4 linked regions of the Homo sapiens genome follow. The protein of the gene in region 4 interacts with the protein of the main gene of each other region in a biochemical or structural test. Each region holds a gene or a part of one and is shown on either strand. Other genes may lie near its edges. The genes, in order: PRKCG, PRKCB, PRKCE and AFAP1.

The links.
Region 1: the proteins of AFAP1 (region 4) and PRKCG form a complex in vitro, tested with the Homo sapiens proteins (one study listed by BioGRID).
Region 2: the proteins of AFAP1 (region 4) and PRKCB form a complex in vitro, tested with the Homo sapiens proteins (one study listed by BioGRID).
Region 3: the proteins of AFAP1 (region 4) and PRKCE form a complex in vitro, tested with the Homo sapiens proteins (one study listed by BioGRID).

The regions. Positions count from the first base shown.
Region 1 is NC_000019.10:53,899,182-53,906,207, forward strand, and holds part of PRKCG (protein kinase C gamma type), read left to right. Parts: intron 1-1,051; coding exon 1,052-1,143; intron 1,144-1,237; coding exon 1,238-1,300; intron 1,301-1,429; coding exon 1,430-1,568; intron 1,569-3,891; coding exon 3,892-3,972; intron 3,973-5,453; coding exon 5,454-5,561; intron 5,562-7,026. UniProt on the Homo sapiens protein: Calcium-activated, phospholipid- and diacylglycerol (DAG)-dependent serine/threonine-protein kinase that plays diverse roles in neuronal cells and eye tissues, such as regulation of the neuronal receptors GRIA4/GLUR4 and GRIN1/NMDAR1, modulation of receptors and neuronal functions related to sensitivity to opiates, pain and alcohol, mediation of synaptic function and cell survival after ischemia, and inhibition of gap junction activity after oxidative stress.
Region 2 is NC_000016.10:23,831,014-23,838,994, forward strand, and holds the start of PRKCB (protein kinase C beta type), read left to right. Parts: upstream 1-4,969; 5' UTR 4,970-5,162; coding exon 5,163-5,335; intron 5,336-6,361; coding exon 6,362-6,393; intron 6,394-7,981. UniProt on the Homo sapiens protein: Calcium-activated, phospholipid- and diacylglycerol (DAG)-dependent serine/threonine-protein kinase involved in various cellular processes such as regulation of the B-cell receptor (BCR) signalosome, oxidative stress-induced apoptosis, androgen receptor-dependent transcription regulation, insulin signaling and endothelial cells proliferation.
Region 3 is NC_000002.12:45,654,672-45,661,697, forward strand, and holds part of PRKCE (protein kinase C epsilon type), read left to right. Parts: intron 1-7,026.
Region 4 is NC_000004.12:7,936,862-7,944,735, reverse strand, and holds the start of AFAP1 (actin filament-associated protein 1), read left to right. Parts: upstream 1-4,874; 5' UTR 4,875-5,080; exon of another isoform or gene 5,081-5,735; intron 5,736-5,946; exon of another isoform or gene 5,947-6,083; coding exon of another isoform or gene 6,084-6,144; intron 6,145-7,874. UniProt on the Homo sapiens protein: Can cross-link actin filaments into both network and bundle structures. May modulate changes in actin filament integrity and induce lamellipodia formation.

The sequences.
Region 1 (7,026 bases), on a different chromosome or scaffold from region 4:
GCCAGGTGAATGGGTCCTGCGGAGGTGTCGTGAAGCGGTTGAGTTCCTTGGGGGCGTGGCCAGGTGGATGGGCTCTTGGGGGGAGTGGCCAGATGCCTGTTTCCCTGGGGAGCTTGGTCTTGAGTGGCTGTAGCCAGTGCTCTGGAATTTTCAGCAAAGGGGCACAGTGGAGGAGGGTGCCTTCCTAGTGGGCCTGCCCAGAATTGGGCTCCGAGTGACGGGGTCATCACTTTTGGATTCTGACTGAAGGACACATCAGAAACAGGACATTATTTCCTTAGGATTGCGACTTAGGGGCAGAGAGTCAGAACCTGCAAGATTTTAAGAGGGCGTGACTTTACTTCCAGGGGCTCCGAATGAGAGTGGCCAGCCACCTGGATTAAAATATATGTATGAGCAACTTTGATTCCTTTTTTTTTTTTTGAGAAGGAGTTAGCTCTTGTCCCCCAGGCTGGAGTGCAATGGCGCGATCTCGGCTCACTGCAACCTCCGCCTCCCGGGTTTAAGCAATTCTCCCGTCTCAGCCTCCTGAGTAGCTGGGATTACAGGCTCCCGCCACCACACTCAGCTGATTTTTGTATTTTTAGTAGAGACCGGGTTTCGCCACGTTGGCCAGGCTGGTCTGGAACTCCTGACCTCAGGTGATCCACCCGCTTCGGCCTCCCAAAGTGCTGGGATTACAGGCGTGAGCCACCACGCCCAGCTGCAACTTTGATTCTTAGTAGGAAGCCAGAATTGCATCTGTGTGTGAGTGGCTGTGGAAAGAGATTTTGGTGTTCCCGGATTTCGAGCGAATGGTGGGCTTCAGTCTTCAATTCTGAGAAGGCGGGGCCAGAACACGTGGTCTGATAGTTGGCGGTGGTCTGGCGGGTGGAGATTCTGAGGTAGCAGGATTAGCACCTTAGGGCCCTCCCAGGGATGTGGCTAGGTGCTCTGAATTTCTGGTTGGGTGCATCTGGAACCTTCCACGTCTGTCCTGAGTGATCAGGAAAGAAATTCTCCTACTCTGGGTAGATGGATCCCGCCTCTAAGCCCATGCACTTCTCCGCAGGACCGCCTGTATTTCGTGATGGAGTACGTCACCGGGGGAGACTTGATGTACCACATTCAACAGCTGGGCAAGTTTAAGGAGCCCCATGCAGCGTGAGTCTCGGCCAACAGAGAATGGTCGGGGTGGTGGAAGGGGGCAGGATCCAGCCACTGACCTTCTGACGTCCCCACCCACCCCGTCCTCCAGGTTCTACGCGGCAGAAATCGCTATCGGCCTCTTCTTCCTTCACAATCAGGGCATCATCTACAGGTGAGCAGCCCCAGGAATTTCCGTGGAGGAAATCACGCCCCTGGAAGGGAAGGGATTTGAATATGTGGCTCTAGACTGCTGAACTCAACACTTCTTGCAATTCCTGCCCCACACCCCTGCATCGTCCAGGGACCTGAAGCTGGACAATGTGATGCTGGATGCTGAGGGACACATCAAGATCACTGACTTTGGCATGTGTAAGGAGAACGTCTTCCCCGGGACGACAACCCGCACCTTCTGCGGGACCCCGGACTACATAGCCCCGGAGGTAACCCCAACCCTGCTGCTCTGGTCACGCTTTGAGATCCCTTAGAGGGTGTAGCTGATGGTCCAGTATTCACCACGGGTGAGGCCTGACCCTCAGACCTTGTCATGAGTTGTGGCCTTCTTACACAGCCAGTCGTTCCTCCAGCCTCCAGCACAGGTGAGCTTGGCACTGAGCCTGCCAGGTGGGCCCAGCTGGGTCTCTAAATAGGTAAGGTGGGCAGCACCTGTGGGTGAATGTTCCAGGAGAGTGGGACCAGCTCGTAGGAATTCCAAGTAGGACCTGACCCTGGATCCTTCTGAGAAGGGGCAGACGATTTCTAGTGTACTCTGAGTGGGTGTGGCCTGTCCCCTGCCAACACTGAACATGTCCGGACTATCTTCTGAATACTTTAAACTGGGCAGGGCTCTCCCTGGAGTATTCAGTTGGATGGAAGCTTATTTCCTGTGTTGTACGTGTTTCTCTGATGTAAGTGTACTGGACTTCTGTGCTGCATTTTTCAAGAGGGCAGGATCAGCTGGGCGCGGTGGCTCACACCTGTAATCCCAGCACTTTGGGAGGCTGAGGCAGGTGGATCACTTGAGGTCAGGAGTTTGAGACCAGCCTGGCCAACATGGTGAAACCTCATCTCTAACAAAATTACACAAATTAGCCGGGCGTGGTGGCATGCGCCTGTAATCCCAGCTATTCGGGAGGCTGAGGCAGGAGAATCGCTTGAACCGGGGAGGCGGAGGTTGCAGTGAGCTGAGATCACACCACTGCACTCCAGCCTGGGTGACAGAGCATAACTTCATAACTTCATCTCAAAAAAAAAAAAAAAAAAAAGCCGGGTGCAGTGGCTCACACCTGTAATTCCAGCACTTGGGAGGCTGAGGCGGGCGGATCACAAGGTCAGGAGTTTGAGACCAGCCTGACTAACATGGTGAAACTCCATCTCTACTAAAAATACAAAAATTAGCCAGGCGTGGTGGCGGGTGCCTGTAGTCCCAGCTACTTGGGAGGCTGAGGCAGGAGAATTACTTGAACCCGGGAGGTGGAGGTTGCAGTGAGCTGAGATCGCGCCACTGCACTCCAGTCTGGGCAACAGAGTGAGACCCTGTCTCAAAAAAAAAAAAAAAAAGAAAAAGAAAAAGGGCAGGGTGAGATCCCTAAGGTTCTGGGAGAGCAGATGCTGTCCTATGAGTATTTTAAGTGGGTGGGGTATTACCCGACTTTGTTAAAGGGGTGGGGCTGATGTTCTGAATGTACGTATAGATGGATAAAGCACATGCCTGTAGTCCCAGCTACTTGGGAGGATGTGCCTGACTCGTGCCCAAATAATCAATGTCAGTGATCACAAAACCTGGCTGGTAATCAGAATCATCTGTAGAAAATTTGAAAACTGAGGCCAGACATGGTGGCTCATGCCTGTAATCCCAGCACTTTGGGAAGCTGAGGCAGGCAGATCACTTGAGGTCAGGAATTCAAGACCAGCCTAGCCAACATGGTGAAACCCCGTCTCTACTAAAAATACAAAAATTAGCTGGACATGGTGATGTGTGCCTGTCAACCCAGCTACTCAGGAGGCTGAGGCAGGAGAATCACTTGAACCCAGGAGGTGGAGGTTGCAGTGAGCCAAGATTGCACCACTGCACTGCATCCTGGGCTACAGAGTGAGACTCCATCTCAAAAAAGAAAAAAGATAAGAAAATTTGAAAACTACACACATATTCCTGACTCTGACACAAATATTCTAGGTGGGTGGAACCAGTGACTTGGCCGTTAGGTAGTCTTTCTATTTGAGGCCAAATGAATGTTTGAAGTAGGTATGCTTTGTTTCCAGAATATTCCAAAAGTTAGATCGCTGGCCAAAATATTCAGAGTGGAGGCTGGGCGTGGTGGCTCACTCCTATAATCCCAGCACTTTGGGAGGCGGAGGCAGGCCAATTGCTTGAGTCCGGGAGTTTGAGACCAGCCTGGGCAACATAGTGAGGACCTATCTTCACTAAAAGTGCAAAAATTAGCCAGGTGTGGTGGTGCACACCTGTAGCCCACCTACTTGGGAGGCTGAGGTAGAAGAATTACCTGAGCCTGGGAAGTTGAGGCTGAGTGAGCCGTGATCACACTACTGTGCTCCAGCCTGGGCAACAGAGTGAGACCCTGTCAAAAAAAAAAAAAAAAAAAAAAAAAACGAAACAAAAAATCACCTGATGAAATAAATATTCAGAGTGGGAAGAGCTTGTGCTGAAAGCACTTAACGTGGGTAGCGCTCCCAGGGGGTGAGGCCAGAGGGGTCCTAGGCTTCCTAAAGAACGCATCATGATTCCCTGCCTTCCACCTCCCCTAGATCATTGCCTACCAGCCCTATGGGAAGTCTGTCGATTGGTGGTCCTTTGGAGTTCTGCTGTATGAGATGTTGGCAGGACAGGTAAGGGAAGGTGGGGAGAAGCTGGCTTGGCTAAAAGAGACAGAGAGGGGCACCTGGATCTCAGGAGGAGCCAGTTAGAAAGGAGCCCAGAAGGTTGTGCTCGAATAGCGCTGTCCATGGTTCTGAAGTGTTGTCTTAATGTAGACCAGGTGTTTTGTTTTGTTTTGTTTTGTTTGTTCTGTTACCATGGATTCTTTCTCCCTAGATGGTAAAGTAGCAGTCTGGTTAAGCCTATGGATCCCTTCTCAGAAGAATGTTTTTCAATGCACAAAATAGAATAATACATACGCAGAAAACCAAGGTTCAAATCCTCACTTTGCCACTTACTGGCTGTGTCAGCTTAGACAATTACATACATTCTAAATCAGCTTGATTGGATTCCTGGACTGCTGAGTGTACTACAACTAAAAAAATTGGTTACCACACTCTTGATCATCTTCTTAGCTGGCTATGGTAGTGGGCACCTATAGTCCCAGCTACTGGGGAGGCTGAGGCAGGAGGGTCACATGAGCCCAAGAACTCAAGGTTACACTGAACTATGAGTATGCCACTGTGTTCCAGCACAGGCGACAGAGCAAGACCCCATCTCAAAAGAACAAACAAACAAAAGAAATCAATCATTTTGAAAGATAGTCACCAAAACTTTTAAAATTTAATTGAATCTAACAACCAACTAAATTCAATGTATACAGTTGTCTAAATATTTAAAATTGGAAAATGGACATATGTGCAATTTCTTATTAATTCATTAAGTAGTAAGTTCTAATGGTAGTAAAGTAAAAAGGAGCTCTAACAGTAATTTTGATGTAGCAATGACTAATAATTTGGAATATCTGCAACTCTCATGTGATGAGAAAATACCTGTGATTACTATTGATAATGAAGCCACAAGCACTGCTGCTGCCTGCATTCATAACTGAAGGGAATGCTAAATTTTAGTTAGAAGTTAAAAAAAAATTTGGCCGGACATGGTGGCTCACGCCTGTAATCCAAGCACTTTGGGAGGCCGAAGTGGGCAGATCACTTGAGGTCAGGAGTTTGAGACCAGCCTGGCCAATATGATGAAACCCCATCTCTAAATCTTTGCCTTGGTATCATTTTTTGTAACCTCAGAAGACTGTGAACTACTCATCCAACCAGGAGAATGCTTTTAGGGTGTTTCCTGCAGTTTTTCCTCTCTTCTATTTAACTGACATGTTGCATAATTAACAGCCTGCTGATTTACATAGCAGATAAAGAGAGGCAGAATAGTACAGAGATGCACAGATCTGAGGCATCCGAGATAGGAAATGAGAGAACCTGAGAAGGAGAGAGATCAAGCTTTGGTGGTTTGGTCTGATCTCTCCTGAGGGTGTGGTCAGGTGTGCATGTGGGGCGTGTGATGGGTCAGGCATGTTCCCGGTGGGGTGAGGAGGGTGTGGAAGGTTTGGGGAAAGGCAGTTGGGCATGTCCCTGACTCTCTATCCCCTCCACTTTGATAGCCTCCCTTCGATGGGGAGGACGAGGAGGAGCTGTTTCAGGCCATCATGGAACAAACTGTCACCTACCCCAAGTCGCTTTCCCGGGAAGCCGTGGCCATCTGCAAGGGGGTGAGAGCCCCCTGACTCCCAGCTTCTCCAGGCTCACAACCACACACCCCATTGCTGTCTCTGTGCCTATTAGAAAAATGCTCCCATTCCTGAAGTCACTTTACTTCCATCTGTTGGAAAAGTTGATATGATGCATAGGTTTTGTTAGAACAATGATTTCCAGCCCTGTTGCCACGAGGCCTGGAGATGGCCTCTGTCTCATCCTTCTCTGTGACTCCCACTCCCCAGCTCCCTGCTTGCAGGAAGTGCTGAAAGTCCAGGGTGTCTGTCTGTCTAGAACTGGGTGGGTCAGGTAAACCCAACTTCTGCAGCTTTTCTTCCTGTGTGAACTTGGGTGAGTCACCAAAACTTTGTGAGCTTAACTCTCTTCAGGGGTTATGGAGTTGACACAGAAGAAAGCACCTGGCCCATAGCAGATTTTCAGCCCATGTCAGCACCTTCTGCGTCTAGCTGCTCTCTCTGCATCTCCCTGACAGTCTCTCTGGTTTCTGTCTCATGCCTCCCCTCCATCTGCATACGATGGGGCTCTCTGTGTTTCTTCCTTTTCTCTGTGTCTCCTTCTGCATCTCTGTCTACACTTTTGGGCCTTTGTCCAACCCCCCTACCCCCCATCTCTGTCCCCTCCTGTGTCCACTCTCATACACACACGCTACATCTCACCCTCCTCTCCTGCTGGCTTTCTGTCCTCCCTTTTCTCTGGGTCTCTGTCCCCATATTTGGTCTTTATTCCTCCCTCTGGGTGTGTGTTTCCTGGGTCTCTATCCTTCTCTCTTTCTGAATCTCTGTCCCCCTGGGTCTCCTCTGTCTCCTCCCTTCTCTGAGTTTCTGCCTTCTTACCTGGGGTCTCTGTACCACCCTCTGAATTTCTATTTCCCCTTTTCTCTGGGTCTGCAACCTCTCTTCCCCCATTCCCTCCCTCTTCCCCTTCATCTCCTCTACCCTTCCCTCCCTCCCCCTACCGACCTCCCTCTGTCCTTCACTCTCCCCTTCCCTCCCTCCCCCTACCCTTCCCTCTCCCCGTCCCTCTCTCCCCTTCCCTCTCTCCCCCTACCCCTTTTCCCTCTCCTCTTCTCCATCTCCCTCATGATTTGTTCTGTTTCTCTGTGTGTCCCTGGGTCTCTGGGTATGAATTTCATCTGCTATCATTTTCATGTATCCTCTCCTTCTTCCTGTCTCTCTCTCTCTCTCTCTCACTCACTCTCACCCTCTGTCTCTCTCTCTCTCTGTCCCTCTTCCTCTCTCTCTCCTCTCTGTCTCTCTCTGTCTCGCTCTCTGTCTGTCTCCCTCCTCCTCCTCCTCCCTCCTCCTCCTCCTCCTCCTCCTCCTCCTCCTCCTCCTCCTCCTTCTTCTTCTTCTTCTTCTTCTTCTTCTTCTTCTTTTCTTCTCTCTCTCTCTCCTTTCTTTTCCCTTCCTCCCTCCATTTGCCTGTTTCCCCTGGCTGTTCTTATCTCTCCGGATCTCATGC
Region 2 (7,981 bases), on a different chromosome or scaffold from region 4:
TTCCTTTAGTTCTTTGAGCATCTTCAATATAGTTGCTTTAAAGCCATTGTCTAGTAGGCTCACCTTCTGATCATTCTCTGGGACAGTTTCTGTTGGTTTATTTTTTCCCTTTGAAGGGGCCATACTCCCCTCTCTCCCTTCCTCTCTCCCTGCCTTCCTGCCTTCCTTCCCCTCTATCTCTTTCCTTCTTTCTCCCCCTGTCTCTCTTCCTGTCTTTCTTTTTTGAGATAAGGTCTCACTCTGTCACCCAAACTGGAGTGTGGTGGCACAATCATGGCTCACTGCAACCCCCAACTCTCAGGTTCAAATGATCCTCCTGCCTCAGCCTCCTGAGTAGCTGGGACTACAGGTGTGGACTACCTGTCTGGCTAATTAAAAAAAAGTTTTTGTGGAGATGGGGTCTCACTATATTGCCTCAACTGGTCTCAAACTCCTAGACTCAAGTAGTCTTCCCACCTTGGCTTCCCAAAGTGGAGGCATAAGCCTCCACCACACCTAGCCTTTTCTTGTTTCTTACTATAGGTTTTTAGTTACAATTAGTAGCAGTTCTAAGTGATCTTGAGAGTTGCCACATTTCAAATGCTCAGCAGCCACATGTGGGTACTGTGACAACTGTGTTGAAGAGTGCAGCCTTAGAACAAAGGGATTGAGGCCGAGCGCGGTGGCTCATGCCTGTAATCCCAGCACTTTGGGAGGCTGAGGCGGGTGGATCACCTGAGGTCAGAAATTTCAGACCAGCCTGGCCAACATGGTGAAACCCTGTCTCTACTAAAAATACAAAAATTAGCTGTGCACGGTGGTGCACGCCTGTAATCCCAGCTACTTGGGAGGCCGAGGCAGGAGAATGGGTTGAACCTGGGAGGCGGAAGTTGCAGTGAGCCGAGGTCGCATCACTCCACTCCAGCCTGGGTGACAGAGCAAGACTCTGTCTCAAAAAAAACCAAAACCAAAACAAAACAAAACAAAAAACAAAAGAATAAAGGGGTTGAGAGGCAAACTACTGTATCCTTGTCCTACCTTAGAGAAGAGGAAAATGAGACACAGGAGGAAGTAAGTGACTTGCCCAGGGTTATGCACTGTAGTCATTTAAATGGTAGCCCCCAAGAAGGTACATCCATGTTATAATTCCTGGAACTTGTGAATGTCATTTTATTTGGCGAAGGGGTCTTTGCAGGCATAACTATATTAAGGATTTTGAGATGAAGAGATCATCTCGGATTATCCAGTGAAGCCCTAAATCCAAGGACCAGTGTTCATATAAAAGATATACAAGGTATAGGGCCAGTGCAGTGGCTCACGCCTGTAATCCTAGCACTTTGGGAGGCTGAAGGCAGGCAGATCACCTGAGGTCAGGAGTTTGAGACCAGCCTGGCCAACATGGTGAAACCCTGTCTCTACTAAAAGTACAAAGATTAGCCGGGCATGGTGGCGGGTGCCTGTAATCCCAGCTACTTGGGAGGCTGAGGCAGGAAAATCACTTGAACCCGGGAGGCAGAGACTGCAGTGAGCCGAGACCATGCCATTTCACTCCAGCCTGGGCAACAAGAGCAAAACTCCATCTTGGAAAAAAAAAAAAAAGAAAAGAAAAAAGAGATATACAGGGGATATTAGAGAAACAGAAGGGGTGAAGATAGGCACACAGAGGAGAGGGTGATATAAAGACAGAGGAGGATGGGAGCGATGTGACCACAAGCCAGGGAAGCCAGGGAATGCTGACAGCCTCCAGAAGCCACAAAAGGCAAGGAAGCGTTCCCCTCTGAAACCTCCAGAGGGAATGTGGCCCTGCTGACACTGTGACTTATGGTTTCTGGCCTCCAGAATGATGAGAGAATAAATTTTTGTTATTTCTAGCCACCCTGTTCTGTTATAATTTTTTATGGCAGCCACAGGTCTGGAGCAAAGGGACCTTGGACTCCATTCTCAGCCACAGCAACCTGCCCCCTCACTGCCTCTGAAATCTTTCAAGTGACCAGCATTCACTCCTTCATGAGCAGAGTGGGCCTGGGGGGCTCTGGTGGCAAGGAGGACCCATGCCCAATCTACGGGGAGCTGCTGCCCTGCAGCTCCTGTTGGCACTATGCCATGTTGCCCTAATCTCTTGCCTGATCTGCTCAGTTGACCTCTTCACTGCTCTTCCTGCCTCCACCCTTTCTCCTCTAATTTCCACATAGTAGCTAGGGTAAGCTTTTAAAATGAAAACCCCATAAGTTGTATCAGGCCACTCCTCAGCTTCCAACCCTCCAATGGCTTCCATTCACTGGAGTGAAATCCAAACTCCTTATCACATTTGCAAAGCCCTTTGGGGCCCTGCTACCTCCCTGACCTCATCTCATAAGTCCTCTCTCCTCTCTGTTCATCCAACCACTGAGGCCTTCTCGCTATTTCTCCAACATACCAAGCTTGATACTCCCCTAGGCTCTTTGCATTTTCTGTTTTCTCTGTCTGGAAACTCTCGATAGTCCCCTGGCTCACCCTCTCACTTTATTCAGGCCTTACTCAGATGTCCCCATATTATAAAGGATTTCCCTGTGGTCTTTATAATAATGCTTTATTTTTATTTACAAACATTCTATTATACACCACCAGGTATGGATTCGTTAGTTGGTTAGGTTATTACTCCCCCTTCCCCATTAGACTATAAGCTCCACTAGGGCAGGGACCTTTGTCTGGTTTGTTTAACAGTATCTGGAACAGCACACAGTAGGTGCTTAATAAGCAATTTGTTGATTGAAAGAACAAATGTATGAGTGAGGGAGGAATGTAGGCTCCATTTAGCTCTATCTTTTTTCCTAGATAAGTCAGAATCTGGATATTTAAGTAAAATTCTATGACCCGTGAACTTAAAAAACAACAACAACAACAACAACCCACTGGGCTAGCTTAAAAAAAATAGAGCATCTGGAGCCACCAGTTTGAGACCCTGACCTACAGGAATCTGGGTCCAATGGGAACCACATTTCTCATCCTCACTTGGTGCAACGCCTTCAGGAACCAAGTGGCTCTTTTCCATCCACAGCCCTTGCATCCCCAGGCCCCGGCGCCATGAGGTACTGTTTGTTGTTACAGACCAAAGTCATCCAGGGCACTTCATTCAAAAGGCAGGATGTGGGCTGTGAGCTTCCAGCTCATCAGTTCAAAGGAAATCTACTTCAGCAGCAATGTCTCCTGGGATGTTTTCCCAAGCCTCCCTGGGAGGTGGTGGGGCCTCTTCAAGGACTAATAATAGACAGGCACATCCAGTTTCCCAAACATGTCAACCTTAAAAGTGAATGCTATTTTTTCCTCCTTACCTTTGAATTACTATGTAGGAGAGGGACATTCTATTATTGCAGCCCTTGCTCTCGACATGCTACCTAATAATGACTTACCACTCAGCAGCTTCCAGGCAAAATTGTCATAGTGGGACCTGAGCTCGTGCAACTCCAGCCTGCCCCCCTTCATCCACCACTACTCAGGTTCACCCCTTTGTCACCAGGATGCTTTGTAGTCAGGCCAGCCCAATCACCATTCAGCAACGGTATGACTGTGGGTGTATCTTAATCACTCTGAACCTCCCCATCCTTATCCATAATGAAAGTTACCAGATCTACATAGGGTTGTTGCGGGGGCTAAATAAGACAGCACAAGTACCTGATGCCCAGCAATCACTTGATATTTATTATTAAACACCTACTGGGTGTGAGTGGGGGTAAGAAGTGCCGACCTTTAAGTCTTCATTCATTCACTTGTTCATCCATGCCCTCACTCAATCAACCAATATTTACTGGGGTCTTGGGAGGTGTCAGGCACTGAGCTTGGTGCTGGGCGACATGGTGGTGAACAGCCCCCCTGCTCTCACAGAGCCTAGGTCTGGTGAAGGAGCTCACAGCCTAATGAAGCTCTGCGTTCCCAGAGTGGGGGACATGGTGGCAGTGGGTATCTTTAGGCCTTGTGCATGAACAGGGCGCTAAATAACATTGAATTACACATTGTAGACAATTATTACCCTTTCAGTTACCTTCAGATCACATCAAGGAGAGAGTCCTGGTTGGATAGTAATGTCTTTAACACCCCTCTAGCATTTATTAATTTCCTCTCTTAACAAATAAAAGATGACTTCAGTCGAAGATGCTTAGGACAGATGACGGCACCTGGAGATATTTTAATAATGTAGATACCTCTTGCTGTTCAAACTCAGACCAAAAGAGATAGGCTTTTTTTCCCCCAGAGGGTGCACAAATACGACCAGAATTTGTGAAGACGAGTCAGAAATGAATGAAATTTGGAAAAATATTGATCTACTGAAATCCTTCCTCCCCACACTATTAGCCCTATGTTACAGTTGGGGAAACGGAGTCGTTTTGCAGAGGGGATGGACAGAAGGTAGGGAGTTCTCTTCCAAACGTGCAGGAGGCAAGCAAAGCCAAGAATCTTCTCTGTGGTGGAGTTAGAGACATATAAAATAAAGATCGCTCCTCCCCTACCTCTGCAGAACGTGTGTGTGTATGTGTGTGTAAGTGTGTGCGGCCACAAGCCTTTCCGAATGAGTGACAGCGGGAGCCCATCCCTCCAGGAGACGCGTGCAGAATGACCAATGGGATGGATGGGGGTGGATGGGTACCAGTCTCCGCAGAGGCCGGGGTGGAATTCGCTGCGCCCCACCCCTTCCACCCGCTCCCCTTCGCCCCGTAGGTCTTTCCACTCTCGCTCCTCCCCTGGGCACATCTCCTGAACGCAGCCCCGGGGGCCGAGGACGGGGTGGGGTGGGGGGCGAGGCTCGGGTCCGACGACCCCGGGCTGCGGTCCCGGCGCTGCAGAGCTGCGGCTGTGCACGCTTAGCCGCGAGGCCCGCGGTAGCCCGGGCGCCGATATGTAAAGCAGCTGGCAGCGCTGGGCGGGGCCTGGGCGCGATGCAAATGAGGAGGGCGGGGCTGGCCCGGGGCTCCGCCTCCCTCCCCCGCAGCTGGGGCCAGCGGTGCCAAGCGCAGCTGGACGAGCGGCAGCAGCTGGGCGAGTGACAGCCCCGGCTCCGCGCGCCGCGGCCGCCAGAGCCGGCGCAGGGGAAGCGCCCGCGGCCCCGGGTGCAGCAGCGGCCGCCGCCTCCCGCGCCTCCCCGGCCCGCAGCCCGCGGTCCCGCGGCCCCGGGGCCGGCACCTCTCGGGCTCCGGCTCCCCGCGCGCAAGATGGCTGACCCGGCTGCGGGGCCGCCGCCGAGCGAGGGCGAGGAGAGCACCGTGCGCTTCGCCCGCAAAGGCGCCCTCCGGCAGAAGAACGTGCATGAGGTCAAGAACCACAAATTCACCGCCCGCTTCTTCAAGCAGCCCACCTTCTGCAGCCACTGCACCGACTTCATCTGGTGAGCGCGCGCGCGCAGGGCACCTTCCCGGGCCCCCGAGGGCAGCGCCGCGCCAGGGACCCCCTCTCCGCGCCCTCTGCGCCCTCCGCGCCCTCCGCACCCTGGGACCCCGCGTCTCCGGACTCCCGGCTCCGGACCCTGCTGCCCGGGACTCCCGGATGGACAGTCCTGCCGTTGCCCTGTCCCCACCCTGGTCCCAGACGGGCCGCCGCGGGGCGCCTCCTGCCCTCTCCTGCTCTCAGGCGCCTCTAGAGCGCCCAGGGGCGGCGTCGCGGGAGCCTTTGCTCCACCTGACTAGGAGCGCGCGGGGTCTGTGCCTGCCCTGGAGGGCAGCGCCTCGGGTGCTCTCCGACCCGGGGTTCCCTATCTCTCCGCCTGCTTCCGGGCGCGAGGAGCCCTCGCCCCCCACCCCTTGTTTCCGGGGGGGGCGGCGCCCTGGGTGTCCTTCTCTATCTCCCTGCGGGCATGGGACATCCTTTCTCACTCCTCTGTGCCTCCGGGCAGCGCCCTGTGTTATCTCCCATTGCCCCTCCCCGAGGGCCTGGGTTCCCCTTTCCACTCCTCGGTCACATCACTGCGGGCCCCTTTCTTCCCCAGTCCCTCCAGTAGTGGGGCATCCTTTCCTCCTTCCCAGTCCCCCTCCCAGAGGACACCACCGCCGCGGGGTCACTCTCGCCCTCCCTCTGAATGCGTCTTTATCTCTTCTCTTTTCCCGAGGGTGCTCGGGGCATCTATGGGTACATCTGTCGCCTGCCTTCAGCCCCTACCCCGACGGAAACGCTCCCCACTATCCCGCCACCTGGTGGTCGCAGCCTCCTCTCTTCTGCAGGAGTGAAGGCAGATGGGGGTTACAGCCGAGCTCCCACCTACCCCCACAAAGGCGGAAGACTCTTGGGCACCCGCCTGTGGCTGGGAGTTTGCACCTGGGGTACAGAGGCAGGGAGGAAGGCGGGTGACTCTGTGGGTAACTAGCTGGAGGCTGGGCCCCCCGGGCTGCCTGACATACACCTCCTTCTGCTTTTGCAGGGGCTTCGGGAAGCAGGGATTCCAGTGCCAAGGTAGGCTCTGGGGCTTTGGGGATGCTATTTGTGGGAAGAGAGGGTGAAAAATACTTTATAGAAGAAGTTACTGAGTTAGGCAGAGAGTGAAAGAATCACGTTGGTCGGAGTGACCTCCCAGGCTAGGAATTCTTCACCACAACAGGGTCCTTTCAAGGGGTGTGTGTGTGACTGGGGCCGATGGCGCTTGGGAGTCTTACATGCCAAGGAAGTTCACCTACCCTTCCTGCCTTCCCGGCTCTGGAAGAGTCAAAGCGGTCTCCTGAAGCAATCCTGGCATGGTCAGTTCCGCTGGGGGAGAAAGTGTTTTCCCGGGACGTTTCTGGGAGAACCTGTCCTCCTTAGTTCCCCTTTCTCTGCCCATGTCCCTTCCTTATCTCACCCAGGGAGGTTCTGCCTCTCCCTGCCTTGCAGAGGTCTCTGCAGGTGGCTGCCGCTCCTCTGCAGATGGTGCATCCCCTAGAAAGGCGACTGTGTTTGTCGCCTGGGCCTCCTCTCTCTCTGAAAGAAGTATTTCCAGAGGGAGTGTTTCTCAGATCCTGGTTTAAATCACCCTATCTTCTGGGTTGAAACAGAAAGGTCTCCAGGGCACTGGTTACCTGAGTTCTTGCATCTGGCTTGAGATCCTGGACTCTAACCAGGGGTATCAAACCTGCTGGTGGTGAGTTGATCACGTGTAAAGTGTCCCCCTCCCCCGTCTTTGGGGCTCATGTCTAAAAGACAGATTGCAAATTGGCTCTCCAGGACCAAAAGTTACCCGCAGCTCTGTGTAGCCCTTAGGGTGTCTTACTTGTGAATTTGATGTGAACGTTTTAGAACTGGGAGATTTCACATACACATCCTAATTTCCAACTTTAACTTTGCTGAGAAATGGTCTCACTTTCGCTTGAAAACAATCGTTTGGAGCTGAGAGCCGTCGTCGTAGATGGGGAACAGCCTTACCATTTTGTCTCAGTTGATCCCAGTGGGGAACACTTCACCCATTTCTGGCCCCTGTGGGCATTTAAGTTTGCAACCTCTCATCTGGAAAGTTTGTGTGTTATGTTTTCTTTTTAATTTAAATTTTAATTTTTCACTCTTGGGCTTGGTAAGATTGAGTTTGGTAAGAAACGGCACATTTCTGGGGTATTGTATCTTTAGGGGCAAAGTGACCACCACCCTGGTGAGCTGGGTTTAAATCAAAAGAAAGTATTTGAGTGTGGAAGAGTCTGACGTGATTTAGCACTGACTGACAGTTTTGTGGCTGCACCTCCACCCTCCAGGGAAAAGTAAAGTGATCCCTAGTGAGTGTAGGTGGCATCGTCAGTGGTGCAGAATGTTTGCTTGCTGGCAGCATGGCACTGTGCTCCTCTGAGACTCTTGCATACTCTTCTGAGATCGGGGTCCCGGTGGGCTCAGTGAGCCCTGCCAACCTACCCAGCCTGTCTTACCAAGATTTGGATCCTCTGCACCACACCAGAGGACTCCTCAAGTCTCTTTAAGTGGCAACAACTTAGGCCCTGGTGCAAACAAATTTGGATTGTTTTCTAGAACTTTGACCCCTCAAACAAAATGCCAATGGTGTCTTGGCACCGGAATGTGTAATTTC
Region 3 (7,026 bases), on a different chromosome or scaffold from region 4:
ATTGGACAAACTAAAAAACTTGAGATAGAGAAGCCCAAAGTCTGAAGGATGAGTCAAGCAGTGGAGCAGGTTCAGAATGCCCATCTGTTTTCACCAGAGGATGCTGTAGCCACTCTGGTTCCTCCAGGCTGAAGGTGGGGACTCATTGGCAGGGGTGACTGGCCCCTGGAAATGGAGACAAGTTGCAGCTGGGCTAAGTTCACCTTTCCCAGTCTTAACATTCAGGGTAAACCCATGGTTTCATAGCTTTGGGTAGAATTCCCTGGGCTCAGGTCTCTTCACTCCTTACCTGGCAGGAATGAAGAAACACACCCTTCTCAGGTGTGGCTGAGAGATCTGGCCTGAAGTAAGGGGATGTGGATAGCATAAAGCAGCCGTTTCTCTCATTTTTGCGGAACACCGAATTCTGCCGCACTTTGAATTCACTTGTATTCCTGGAGTTCCTGTTTTGTGCTCATGTCTAACCAGGGAAGCTTCTCACTGTGGGCCATCCAGAGGAAAATGAGGCCCTGGGTTACTCTCAAGGGGCTTCCATTTCACCAAGGAATTGACACCAAGTACCCACATATACATCAAGCTTGTCTAACCCATGGCCTGTTAGCCACATGTGGCCCGGGATGGCTTTGAATGCAGCCCAACACAAATTTGTACACTTTCCTAAAACGTTATAAGTTTTTTTGCATTTTTTTTTTTTTTAGCTTATCAGCTATCATTGGTGTTAGTGTATTTTATGTGTGGCCCAAGACAATTCTTCTTCCGATGTGGCCCAGGGAAGCCTAAAAGTTGGACACCCTGATGTAGACACTTAACTAGCAATTAGGTTCCACACAGGTGGTACCATTAGTGTGTTAAGAGTTTAAAAAGGGAGTGTGGGCTAGGCACTGTGGCTCATGCCTGCAATCCCAACTACTTGGGAGGCTGAGCTGGGAGGACCGTTTGAGTCCAGAAGTTCAAGATCAGCCTAGGCAACGTAGTAAGACTCCATAACTACAAGAAACTTAAAAATTAGCCAAATCTGGACCTGCGGTGTGGTGTGTGCCTGTAGTCCCAGCTACTCAGGAGGCCAAAGTGGGAGGATTACTTGAGTCCAGGAGTTCAAGGCTGCAGTGTGCTATGATCTGACCATCAGGCCACGGCATTCCAGCCTGGGTGACAGAGTGATACCCTGTCTCTTGAAAAAAAAAAAAAAAAAAAAAAAAAGGTAGGGAGAACTGGAAGAATCCAGGAGGGTTTTTGGAAGGAGGCATGAGCTGAGTGTGAAACAGTAGGTTATATTTAAAGAGGTATCTACAAGAAGGAGCAGTGTTCCTGGCATGGCCACCGCAGGAATAAAGGCAGACAATCCTGTAGTCAGGGTTGGAGAATGGATGAGCAGGACAGAAACTGAGTGTACCTGTCAGAAAGGAGTGGGCAGGACAAGGTTTCCCAAATTTAAGACTTTTTTCTGAGTACTGCCTGTGCTTTCATTTACTTAATATTTAAAAAATTGATTCTTTTATTTTCCACGTAGTCTTTTCTTAAGCCCCACTATTCATGAAATCACAGGTTTGGAGCATGTAGTTATAACTTTTCTTTGTTCACATTAAAATAAACAGGGCTCTACAATACAGAAACAAAGTTCATTCCAAGTGCCTCTGAACATCATTAGTGATGTGGGGCCCACACTTCGGAAACATTGGAGTAGGAAAAAGTTTAGAAAACTGAGGTGAATTCTAGAATGCGTAAAAGCCAAGCTGAGATAATTATTCTCCAGATAATGAGAGATGTTTCAGTTGTGATGACAAAGGAGGTTGCTTTAGAGAAAGCTCATTACAAAGAGAAGGAAAGATTTTGCTGATGCTTTGAAGTAAAATCTATTATAACACTATTGCTATAGCTGGGTTTTCCAAGAACCAGTTAATAACGCTACTCAGACTTTCATGTACATAAGAATCAGTAAGGGAGGGCATATAAAAGATAGATCTATATAGATTTATATAGATCCATATAGATAAAAATATAGATCCTCTGGCCCAACCTTGAGAGCTTTTGATGCTACAATTTGGAATAAGCTGGGAATCTACATTTTTAACCAGCTGTCCCAGAGATTCTGACCAGACCAGGCTTGCTTTGAGAAACATTGGGCTAGAATAGAAATTGCAGGCCAGAGAGGGCTCCAGATAATTAATGGATCAAGCATTTTTACATAGATATGTCCTGAAATGTGACTGTATAACTTTATAATTTTTAAAGAAAGATTTAGAATAATAATTGTGTGAACTAGAAGTATTGGGATTCATGTTAGAAGCAGAGGCTGAATGAATGCTGGATGGATTGGCATTGCATTTAGCACAGGGGTGGGAGGCAGGCGGAGCAAGGATTAGGGCTTGAAGGGCTGCATGCAGGTGACAGCTAGCTGGCTCGTTCACATTTTGGATTTTTCTCTATCATTGCTTCAGTAGTCTACACACTGAGCTCAGTTTCCTCTTTGTTCTACTGCCCTGCCTCTGAAGACATCTTTGGCGAATGTCACTCCCTTGCTGTATTCTGTAGAAGAGGCAGGCACTCAGAATCCAGAGGTACAGAAAGCCATCATTTGAGAGGTGATTCCCCGGAGCAGCGAAGTCTGGAGTCACACTGCTTGGACTTGAATCCCACTTCTACCATCTACCACTTTCATGACCTTTAGCGAGTGACTTAACCTTCCGTATTTCCATTCCTTCCCCTGTACAAAGTGGGTGATAATAAATATACCTCCCTATAATGAAATGGGTTTACTGTGGGGATTAAAATGAGTTAATACATGTACAATGCATACACCAATGCTTGGTCCCTAGTAACTGCTCAATGCATATCTACTATAATTATTATTATTATAGCCCCCAAAATGAGCATGGGGCTGGCCTAGAGAGAGTTTTTGACTGAATTGATTATTATATAGGCCACGAGAAAGCTAGGTTTTCATATTCTCCAAAGTAGCTCTCTTCAGTCTGGCCATCTCATTTGGCAAAGAATGGGACACTAGAAGTGTCATTTCTGGTTTGTATTTCCCAAGTAGCCCATCGGCAAAGCTTTTCAAAATGATGGCACCCCTGCTGACTCTGGGAGATAGGCCTATACCCTGTTTGGACTCTGGGAGATAGGCCTGTACATCATTCGGAGAGGTTAGGCTCTGAGGCCGTTCTCCCTTGGCCCACCAGAATCACTTGGGGGAGATTCATGCAACACAGATGCCAGGGCACAGCCTCTAGCAGTGCTGATTCTGATGCCCCGAATGGAGCCTGAGTTAAGCAGGACCCCTGCTGCATCTCCTACAATGGCAGCCTGACCGCACTTTGATATATGTTACTCTAGAGCACATCTCTATCTTCAGGACATTTGTAGGAAAAAATTTTTTAAAAGGATTTCTGAAACCTCCATTGTCATTTAAACACAGTGGGGTGGGAAGGGACTACTAAGGGGGTAAGGAGGTAGGGAAGGGCTGGCAATTGTCCATACCTCCTTCGTGTGCGCCTATACCCTGAATTATTTCCCCAGCAGCCAAGGGTCCCTGGATCTCCCTTTCCCCTACTCCCATAATACCATGTAATCCAATATTGCTCTCATTGGTCCATAGCTGGTTGTTTAACAACTACCCAAAGGATTCATTCTTGGCCCAGTGCTATCACAGACAACCTCTTGGCATTGGGTCCCTAGAGTTAAGGACCTGAGTTAGCCTTCAACTTCATGGACAGTCAAGCGTTGTTTGAACTGTTTCTTCTTCTTAGTGTCTTTGACCAGCAGCAGATTTAGTGAATATTTGAGACCCTGAATTCCCTGGCTCCTCAATGGACCGCTCTCCCTGGATTCAGTGAGTTCTAACTGGAAGGCATCTCCACCACTCACTAGTTGTGTGACTTTGAGCATGTGACTTAGGCTTTTTAAGCCCGTTTCTTCATCTGTAAAATGGAAATGTCGTAGGTCTTGACTTTCAGAGTTGCTATGAGAATTAAATAAGGAACTATAAAGCTTGTAGCAAGTGGTCTGGCTATAATACATTTCAGCAATTTTATTAATATTTGAAGAGTCATTTGTGTGTTCATAGTTTTAGAATCTTAAATCAGAACATATGGTCCAGTGAAATATATTTTTCTCCTTGATTTGTGAATGTATTTATATGAAAAGTCTTACATACTCTAAAAATAAATTTGACTTAGTTATACTTAACAAATTGCCCTTTGGAAGATAATAGAATTACTTGAAATGAGATTGTTCTGGAAAGTCTAGAAGCTGCGGTCATTGTAGACAAAGGTTAATTATTTATTGAAGAGGTATGGGTAATTGGAAATGAGGATATTTGGGAGCTGGTGTTTTGGTTTTACTGTGCCAATGTCATCTAGTTTCATGGATTTAAATACACTTTCAGTGCTGTTGACACTAAATTCCTAATTCCAGCTCATGCCTGACCCTGAACTCTAGACTTTATATATGGGATTGCCTTCAGGTCCTCAGCTTTCATTGTGTAAAGGGCATCTTAAACTCCATATGCCTAATATTGTATACCTATTTTCCCCTCTCCTCAATCTAAGCCCTTCTTCCTCAGCTTAAGAAATGGCAACTCCATCCTTCCAATTACCCAGCCAAAAACCTTGAGGGGCCATCCTTGACGCCTGTAATTCTCAGGTGCCCCATATCTTATCCATCAGCAACATCTGCTCTTTCTGCCTTCAAAATATATCTCAGATCACATCCTTTCCATACCTTTGCTGACCTCACTTGGGTCCAAGTCACTATTATCTCACACCTGGATTATTTCAACAGCCTCTGAATTGCTTCCACCTGTCCTGGCTTCTCAGCTCCTGTCTCTGCTCACAGATCTCTCAGGTGAGATTATCCCTTACCATAATTTACAAGACCAACAAAGTCAGGCCTTCTGCTGTGACCTCTCTGACCCTATCACTTGCCACTCTTCTCCCTGTTCATTCCTCTCTAGCTATCCTGACCCACTTGACACCCCTTAAATGCACTTACCATGCTCCTGCCTCAGTCTTTACCCTTGCCATCCCATTTTTTTAGAATGCCCTTTTCCCAGATATCCACATGGCTCAAGTCTTCGCTCAGATGTTATGTTCTCAGTAAGGCCTTTTCTGGCAATCCTATCTAAAAGTTCACCCTCTTATTTTATGCTTCATATGCGCCTTTCCTGCCTTTTTTTTTTTTTACTCTTTACTCTTACCTCTATCTGATACGCTATTTAGTTTTCTTATTTATCTTTGTTGTTTATTTCTAATACCAGAACACCAGACGCTCTATAAATGTAGAGCTTTTTGTTCACCGCTTTATCTCAGCACCCAAAACAGTGCCTGGCACTTTGTTGAATGAATGAATAAATTGTTGAATGAATGAATAAATTTCTTGGCACATTGTTGAATGAATGAATGAATGAATGAACACAAAACAAGTGTGTATTTCTATAGTACCTACTATGGTCTAGCACTGTTGGTAGATATGGGGTTTGGTAACACAAAAGTTGTGTATGTGTAGTTCCTGCCTCTGAGGAGCATGGCATCTCGATAGAAACCAGTTGAATGAATTTCTTAAACAATCCTTCTGTACAGTTGAAAGAAGTGAGGAGGAGGAGGAAGGAGAAAAGGATATTTTATTTTATAAAAATCTATGAGATCCCTGAAGATGTTCTTATGAGAGAATGCTATATTATTTCCACATAGCAATTTGCATCAAGCTGAAGAATCTCCGTCAAGTCTGAATTTCCCAAAAGTAGGAATTTTCTACCCTCTGAGTGCCCAGGGCCCATTCCAGGTGCCATGGTGAGGGAAGAAGAAAAAGGCCCACTTGTCCTCCATTTGCAGAGTTTAAATGAAGTTCAAATTCTCATCAGGGCTTTAGATACAAAACCCTTTGTAGTTGGCAGCAACAAGAAACGAAATTTCAAATTCCGGCGCCTGAACTCATAGAGCTATTGAAGCATGTTCAGACAAAGCTTCCAGGGGTTTCACTTAGGCTAAAATAACTCCAGAGCAGGCCTGCAATATTTTACATAAATAAAAGCTACACTTGGCAAAACATTATATTTCTCTCCAAGTTCCTCTGGGTATATATGGGCTTGTTAGTAATTACAATCTATTATAATGCTAATCAGCATGGTTGCACCTGTTTGAGATTTAGTTTTCTGTCAGAAACCATGTGAAGTGGCCAAAAGTCTGTACTGTGCTGGGAGAACCAGGAGGACAGGAACATACAATTCATCGTAACTCACTGACATCTAAACAAAATTGAAACTCCAGAGGAAATATAACTGAAATCTGTAATACTGTGCTGGGGAAGAGGAGGAAAAACAGAAGCCTATCATGAAACCCAGATGCTGAAATGAGGATCTCCTCTCTCCTCATCCCTGACCTCTACCCCACCTTGAAGTCTCAAAGAGGTAGTTTTATGTTAGTGAAAAGTCACCTGTATTTGCCAGCAAGGAGTAGACTCACTGAGCTCCTGACCCCAAGAGATAGATAAGACTAAAAATGTAATCAAGCTTAAGAAGAGTTTTTTAAAATTTGAGATGGAGTCTTGCTCTGTTGCCCAGGCTGGAGTGCAGTGGCATGATATCGGATCACTGCAACCTCTGCCTCCCGGGTTCAAGCGATTCTCCTGTCTCAGCCTCCCAAGTAGCTGGGATTACAAGCATGAGCCACCACACCCGACTAATTTCTGTATTTTTAGTAGAAACAGGGTTTCACCATGTTGGCCAGGGTGGTCTTAAACTCCTGACCTTAAGTGATCCACCCGCCTCAGCCTCCCAAAATTCTGGGATTATATAAGAGAAGTGAGCCACTGCGCCTGGCTTCAAGAAGAGTTTTTTTTGTTTTGTTTTGTTTTTTGTTTTTTGTTTTTTTTTTTTTTTTTAGAAGGAGTCTCGCTCTGTCGCCCAGGCTGGAGTGCAATGGTGCCATCTTTACTCACTGCAAGCTCCGCCTCCCGGGTTCACACCATTCTTCTGCCTCAGCCTCCCGAGTAGCTGGGACTACAGGTGCCCGCCACCACGCCCAGCTAATT
Region 4 (7,874 bases):
CACAATGGCCACTATAGCTGCAGATATCACACCCATGTTCATGATCATAATCCCTGCTGCTGAGAAAAAGACAGCGTCTGCTGTGTCTTTTCCTTTTCCAAGAGAGCAAAAACTTCCCTCAAAATCAGGGGTGTGCTGGTATTTTGGGGGAGAGGAGGGAGAGGGAAAGTCCTGATTTTTAACAGTTGCCAATTTCTTTATAAGTTCCCCTACTATGTCTGATTTCAAGCTACCACCATGACATTGCTGACTACGGCGTTGGAGAGAGAAGTCAGCAGCACACCATGATTTAGGATTTCCACCTACTGACGCGGGAGATGCAAATCTTTAAGAACATAGTAAGAGTAAAACAATCAGGAAATAATGCATTTTGATGATTTATTATCTTTGTTTTATATTTATATTTACATTTAATTATATAAAATTAATATATAATTTTATAAAATTAATATATATAATTATATAAATATCTAACATAGGCTGGGCACAGTGGCTTACACCTGTAATCCCAGCACTTTGGGAGGCCGAGGTGGGCAGATCACCTGAGGTCGGGCGCTTGAGACCAGCCTGACCAACATGGAGAAACCCCATCTCTACTAAAAATACAAAATTAGCCAGGTGTGGTGGTGCAAGCCTGTAATCCCAGCTACTGAAGAGACTGAGGCAGGAAAATCACTTGAACCTGGGAGGTGGAGGTTGTGGTGAGCCCAGATCACGTCATTGCACTCCAGCCTGGGCAACAAGAGTGAAACTTCATCTTGAAATAAATAAATAAATAAATAAATAAATAAAAATACATATTTATGTATAAATATATAATTATATACATAAATGTATATATTAATATATATTTATTATATATTTATTAATATATAAAATATGTTTATTTATTTCTGAGACAGGGTCTGGCTCTGTCACCCAGGTTGGAGTGCAGTGGCACTATCATAGCTCATTGGAGCCTTGAACAGATGGCTCAAGCGATCCTCCCACCTCAGCCTCCTGAGTGGCTAGGATTGCACGCACACACCACCACGCCTAGCTAATTTTAAAATTTTTTGTAGAGACAGCGTCTTCCTTTTTTGCCTAGGCTGGTCTTGAACTCCTGGGCTCAAGTGATCTTCCTGCCTCAGCCTTCCAATGTGTTGGGATTACATACGTGGGCCACTGCACCCGGTCTAATGCATTTTTTAATTTGCAAGTTTATATTATTTAATATTTTTAAGTACTGAATGTGTTGAACACCAACTCGCAGAATTCCCGAACAATGGACGGTCAGCTCTCATGTTCTGGTTCAAACAGCCCCAGCACACCACGGCTAGAAACCTGTCAGCCAACTTCCACTTATATCTCCCTGGGCAGGACAATGTTGCTTGGCCAATCCCCACTAAGAGGAACTCTGGAAAGGCAAGAAACTATTCTGTTCTCTATAATGGAACGTGACCAGGGAGAAGGCAGCTGGCAGGGCCAGTTGGGCCCTCCAACCAGCAGCATCCACCATCGACCAACTGCCCTAGAACTTCACTGTGCTGGGCATTTGGGGCACTGTTATGAGTAAGAGTTTTCATTTTTCTTCTCATGGGGCCTTCATGCAAGAGACAATTTTTTTTTTTTTTTGGAGACAAAGTTTTGTTCTTGTTACTCAGGCTGGAGTGCAATGGTGCAATCTTGGCTCACTGCAACCTCTGCCTCCTAGGTTCAAGTAATTCTCCTGCCTCGGCCTCTCGAGTAGCTGGGATTACAGGCATGCACCACCATGCCTAGCTAATTTTTGTATTTTTAGTAGAGATGGGGTTTCAACATGTTGGCCAGGCTGGTCTGGAACTCCTGAGCCACCATGCCCAGCCAAGAGGCAGATTTTAAATCAATAAGTATAGTTGTGATGAATGCCAGAAAGAAGAAAGTGTGTGATGGGGAGGGGACCTACGTTATTGTCTTATATTTTAACACTTTCATAGGCAATAACTAAAAACTTAGAAGCTTAAAACAACACACACATTTAACCCAGTTTTGGCAAGCGAGGAGTTGAGCACATTTTAGCAGGTCCTCTGCTTGGGGTCTCACGCTAAGGAGCTGGGCTACATCCTCATCTGAGGCTCAACCAGGGCAGAATCCATTTCCAGGTCCACTGAGGTTATTGGCAGAATTCATTTCCTTGGACCCGCTTGGCAAGGGCCCAGCTTTTTGCTTCCTTGCTTACGGGGCCCCTCCAAAGGTCCTTTCTCAGCATGGCATCTCCCTCCTGCAGGGCCTGCAGGTGGAACCTCTCTCTCTAGTGTGCAAAGGTGATGCACTGTGACAGTGACATCCATTGCTTTTGCCAGAGGCTCTGTGGGTTAGAAGCCAGTCACAGGTTCTGCTCATACCCAAGGTCAGGAAGATTATGCAAGGGCATAGGTCATCGGTCACTGGGGGGGTTAGTCACTTTAGGGTGTGGCTGCCACCACTGAACTTGGTGAGACTTTAAGGGTTGGTAGGAGCTGGCCAGGTACAGGGGTGAGGGTGTGTTAGGCAGCGGTGAGGGCATGGAGGGGGATGCAGAGGCCTGCACCCTGGAATGTCCTTTCACTCCCTGAGGTTGTGTTCTCCTGATCCCTGAGTACATCCCAGAACACAGTGGGGCCCTAGCTGGGGAGAGGTAGGGAAGCATGTGATGTTCATCGGGGGACCTTGTTAGGCAAATCAGATTAGGGGCCAGGCTTTCAGTGGTGGGTGCGAGTGTGCAAGTGAGTGAGTGTGCAGGTGTGTGTGGGAAGGGAGATGGGGATAGGGTCAGCCCCAGCCATCATCAAGACCTCACCTGTGCATCCACCCATCCCAGCAGCATCCCTGAGTGAGTGCCTTCAGGGCGCAGGTCCTGTTTTGCACATGGAAGTGAATCAGAGTGGGACACTGCCTTGCCTTAGAGAGGTCACACTTCTTTTTTTTTTTTTAACTTGTGATAGAGTCTCGCTCTGTTGCCCAGGCTGGAGTGCAGCGGCGTGACTTTGGCTCACTGCAACCTCCGCCTCCTAGGTTCAAGCAATTTTCCTGCCTCAGCCTCCTGGGTAGCTGGGATTATAGGCACGTGTTACCATGCCTGGCTAATTGTTGTATTTTAGTTTCACCATATTGGCCAGGCTGGTCCCAGACTCCTGGCCTCAAGTGATCTGCCCCCCTTGGCCTCCCAAAGTGCTGGGATTACAGGCGTGAGTCACTGCACTGGGCAAGAGGTCACACTTCATGCCAAGTGGGAGGCAGCCACTCAGACAGCACCCCAGCTGGCGCTGGGAGTGAGGGGTGCTCAGCGTCCTAGGAAGGCAGAGGGCTGCGTGAGAGGTTTGGGGAGGAAGGACTGGAGGAGGATTTGAGATTTTCACCTGAGCAGCTAGGTGGATGGAGGGGCTGTTTACTGAGAATCACAAGAATGTGGATGAGCAGGTTGGGGCACTGATAAAGCACTCTGTTTTGGCCCGCAGAAAATTTGAGATGCCTCCCTGGTGTCCAGCTAGGCCTTTGGGAGAGGTCAGGGCTGGGCATCTGACTTGGATGGATGTCTCTGGCAGGCAGCAGAGCATGTGGATGGTTTGTGAAGCCCAGAAGGGCATGAGATTTCCTGTAGCAGTGCCCACTGTGAATGGAAGGGCATTTGGCCTGAGCCCAGACATGTACAAGTTGGGCAGAGAAGGGGGTGGGTCCCTGGGACCCACAGAGGAGCAGCTATGGAGGTACAGAAAAACCAAGTGTGTGGGGGTCACATGATGCAGGAAGCTCAAATAAGATGAGGAAAGAGGTTTTAAAGATGATCAGGGTTGGGGACAGTAGTTCATGCCTGTAATCCCAACACTTTGAGAGGCTGAGATGAGACGATAGCTTGAGGCCAGGAGTTTGAGACCAGCCTGGGCAACATAGGGAGACCCCATTTCTAGAAATAAATAAATACATTGGTACTTGGCATTTCAGGTGGGGAACAGCAAACACGTGAAAGCTCTGAGGCAGGAAAGCGAAGTGATTAGTGCTTGCTTGCTCCTGGTTCCTTTATCAGGCCTTAAAGAGATGCAGAGACATCTCAGGTACTCCTTGGCCGAGCTCCTTCAGGGAGGGCCTAAGTTCGCTTCTACTTCACATCTTTAAAAAAAAATTTTTTTTTTGGAGACAGAGTCTCACTCTGTCGCCCAGGCTGGAGTGCACGCAGTGGCACGATCTCGGCTCACTGCAACCTCCACCTCCTGGGTTCAAGCGATTCTCCTGCCTCAGCCTCCCCAGTAGCTGGGACTACAGGTACGCGCCACCACAATCGGCAAAGTTTTTGTATTTTTAGTAGAGACGGGGTTTCATCTTGTTGGCCAGGCTGGTTTCGAACTCCTGACCTCAAGTGATCCACCTGCCTCGGCCTCCCAAAGTGCTGGGATTACAGGTGTGAGCCACCGTGCCCGGCCCTACTTCACTCCTAACGCCCGCCATACGTGCTTCCAAATGTTTGCTGAATGACTACAAGATGAACGAGTGAATGGGATTACGTTTCTTCGAGCGGCAGGCAATCCTATTCCTTGGACCTCAGTTTCCCTTTCTGTAAAGCAAGCCTTTCTCTCGCTCTCTGCCCTAAAAGCCTGAGCTCTGGGTTTGAGATGAGCGCGTCCTGTAGAGCCGACTCCAGGTAGACGTTGAGCTGGGTATTCTAGGAGGCGATGATCGGGCCGGCTCTTTGAGGCGGGTCCTCCCGCGGGACCCCGCAAGCCCAGTCCCAGCACCGCCCCGCCCAACCTCCCTTTGTTCCCTCAGGCCCCGCCCACTCCGCGCAGCTCGCTTCCCATTGGCCGGGGGGCGGGCCCTGGGCGCCCGGCTCCGCTGGGGGCGGGACGGCGGGCGGCGGGCGGGGCCGTGTGCGCCTGCGTGGTGTCTGTCCCGGCCGCAGCCCCACGCCGGCTGCAGCTCCGCGAGCCGAGCCGGATCTCGAGCGGGGTACACGGGCTGAGGCGGCGGCGGCGGCCCCGCCCCGGGGCTCCATTGTTAAGGCGGCTGCGGCTCTGTCGGCTGTTCAGCTGCGCTCCAGTCGGCCCAGGCGCCGCGGCGAGGAGCGAGCGCTGCGAGGTGGCGGCCTGAGGTGAGACGGCGCGACTGGCGGCAGGGTCTCCGGACCCGGCGGGGGTCTCTGCCCCGGGCGTGGAAGCTCCGAGCGGGGCTCCGCAGGGTCCGGGGTCCGTGCGCCTGGGCTTTGTCTCGGCCTCGGGTGGTACCGGGGGCTCCGCGCCTGCTGCGACGCCGCGTGGGCCCGCGCGGGGGTCCCGGTCGTCCTGCGGGTGGGGGCCGGTCCCCACTGCTCCCCAGCTCCCCGCGTCTGCCCGGAGGGGACTGCGTGGACCCGGGCGCTGGCTCCTGCCCGGTGCCCCCGCGGCGTGGCTGGTCCCCGTGTGCGTCAGAGGGGGCCCTGCGAAGACCCACTCGTGGGGCGGGGTCCGGGTCACCAAGAGTGGGAGGCTCCGCCGCCCTCCCCCGTAGCGAGACTGCTTCGTCCGACTTACCGAGGGGACTGCGCGGACCCTCGGACGAGGGGGTCCGTGACTCTGGATGGGGGCTCTTTCTTGGCCCCGCATGACGGCTTCCTGAGTGTTTTGTCACCTATAGGTTGTTGCGTGGACCCACGCGCGTGGGTCCCGGCCGCCCTGCGAGTGGGGCTCTGCGCCGCCCCGTGGCTCGTCTGGGTCGACCCCGCCTGGGACGCGAGTGTAATGGGGGTCCGTGCGCGGGGGGCGCGGTTGGTGGGGGCGCACTGCCCCGCCCCGTGATTTATCCTCTCACCTGCCCGGCGGGTGGAAGCGAGAGGCGCGGGCCCGGAGCTGTCGCGCAGCGGCCGCACCGTCCTCTCCCCTGGCCGGCGGGCCCCGGGGGGCGCGGGGCTGTCACCGCGCGTCCCACCGCCGCGCTTCCTGCTCTGGCCCCGGGCTGGGCTCTGATTGGAGGGAGCAGGGCCCTACTGCCCGGAGCTTCTTGATTTCTTCCGTTAGTAATGGGAAGAAAAAAAAAATCTGGAAAGCCAGATTGAACTTTGTAGCTCTCAGCGCCTGGAGAGTGGAAGAAACTCTCCCAAGAATTTGGCGGGCTGGAAAATGCGTTTCAAGCAGGAGCATCCACACCCACGGAATGAGGCCAAGGCAGTTACAGTTAGAGGTCAGATTTATGAGGGGAGAGCGAGGGTGAGGTCCGTGGGTGGGGAGACTCCGACCTCAGCTTGATGGGAAGACCTGATGCTGCCCCTCAGACGCTGTATTTCTCAGCCACCAAAGAAAGTGGAATCACTCCTTAGTGAATGCTTTCATCAAACTTTTGAAAAACCTGTTATGTCCCAGGAAGCAAAATCGAACTGGACAGTTTTCCCCTTTTAGGAGAGTTAAAGATCCCGGAGACAAACAGCAGAAGGCTCAAGGAGTCCAAATACCCAACCTGAAGTTCTTTCTGAACAAGAGATGGTGTTTAAGTAACAGGCATACAAGACAAAACTGAGCTAATTACCGCAGCTGTGGCTCCTAGCCCTCTAGCGTGTCATGCGGGCCCTTTTGCTTTCTCTGCCCTCCGCTGCCCCAGACCCCCACTCTACGCCGCACCTCCAGTCATCAGCTCATGCCGACCCATTGCTATGGACTCTGTTGAGGTGGCTCCCTTCTCTCTGAAGCTTTGCTTGTTCTCCTGAAGTCCTGGTCTTTAAGAGCTTATGATCTGCCAGGACAGATTGGCTTTGGGTAATACATGGTTAACTGTAGCACAGCTTGAAAAATGCTCTGATAGAGGTGGGCAGGCGCAGTTTGTGCATGCGGGTAAATGCGAGCTCCTTTTTCAATACCATGAATCCAAGTATTCATGCTATTTTAAATCTGCAATTCTTTGACTCTCCAGAGGGTTTTTAGATTAATCTTTTTCTATTACTTCCTAATGTTTGTTGCATAGTGCAGAGTACTTGATTAAAACTTAGCAGGTCGGCCGGGCGCGGTGGCTCACGCCTGTAATCCCAGAACTTTGGGAGGTCGAGGCAGGCGGATCATTTGAGGTCAGGAGTTCGAGACCAGCCTGGCCAACATGGTGAAACCCCGTCTCTACTAAAAATACAAAAATTAGCCGGGCATGGTGGTGGGTGCCTGTAATCGCAGCTACTCATGAGGCTGAGGCAGGAGAATAGCTTGAACCCAGGAGGCGGAGGTTGCAGTGAGTTGAAATAACTCCACTGCACTCCAGCCTGGGCGATAGAGTAAGACTTCGTCTCAAAATAAAAACAGAAACAATGTACTGGGTCTACGTCCGGCTCTGGAATTTTCCTGGAAGGCCTTCTCTTCTGGGCTTCATTTTTCTCACCTTTGAGGATCGTAAACTACATAATTTCTAAGAATCTTTTCAGCCCTACACCTTTAATTCTTTCAAGCAAATATAGTAGAGAAAAATTCTCTTACCAGCAATGGTGTAAATAACGGAAGCCTTTGAAAATGTGGATTCTAAAGTGGAAGTTTCTTTTCTTCTTCCCCTTTTTTTCCTTTTAAACAAGTTGAGTTACATGTGTATATACTTTATCTCAGAGTTAAGGACAAGTATCTATGATGAAACCTTAAGCAACTTTTTGGCAATATCTTTCATATTCTTCATAATTGTTTTATGTGCAACATCTTCACTATATCCAATTGGTTTGTTTTTTTCTCATTAATGGAGTTGTTGAGCTCAGATCTTTTTTTCAGGAGCATTTTGTTGATCTTTTAAGTGTCATGTGAAGTATGTTTCAACCTAACATTTTATTTTGGAGAGTAAAATGGGAGTAAATGGAATTTTGAGAGTGCCTTGAGTAGATGTACTTGGCTTTGTGTAATGGTTTGAAGCCTAGTTTAAAATTACCACTTGTGGCCAGGTGTGGTGGCTCA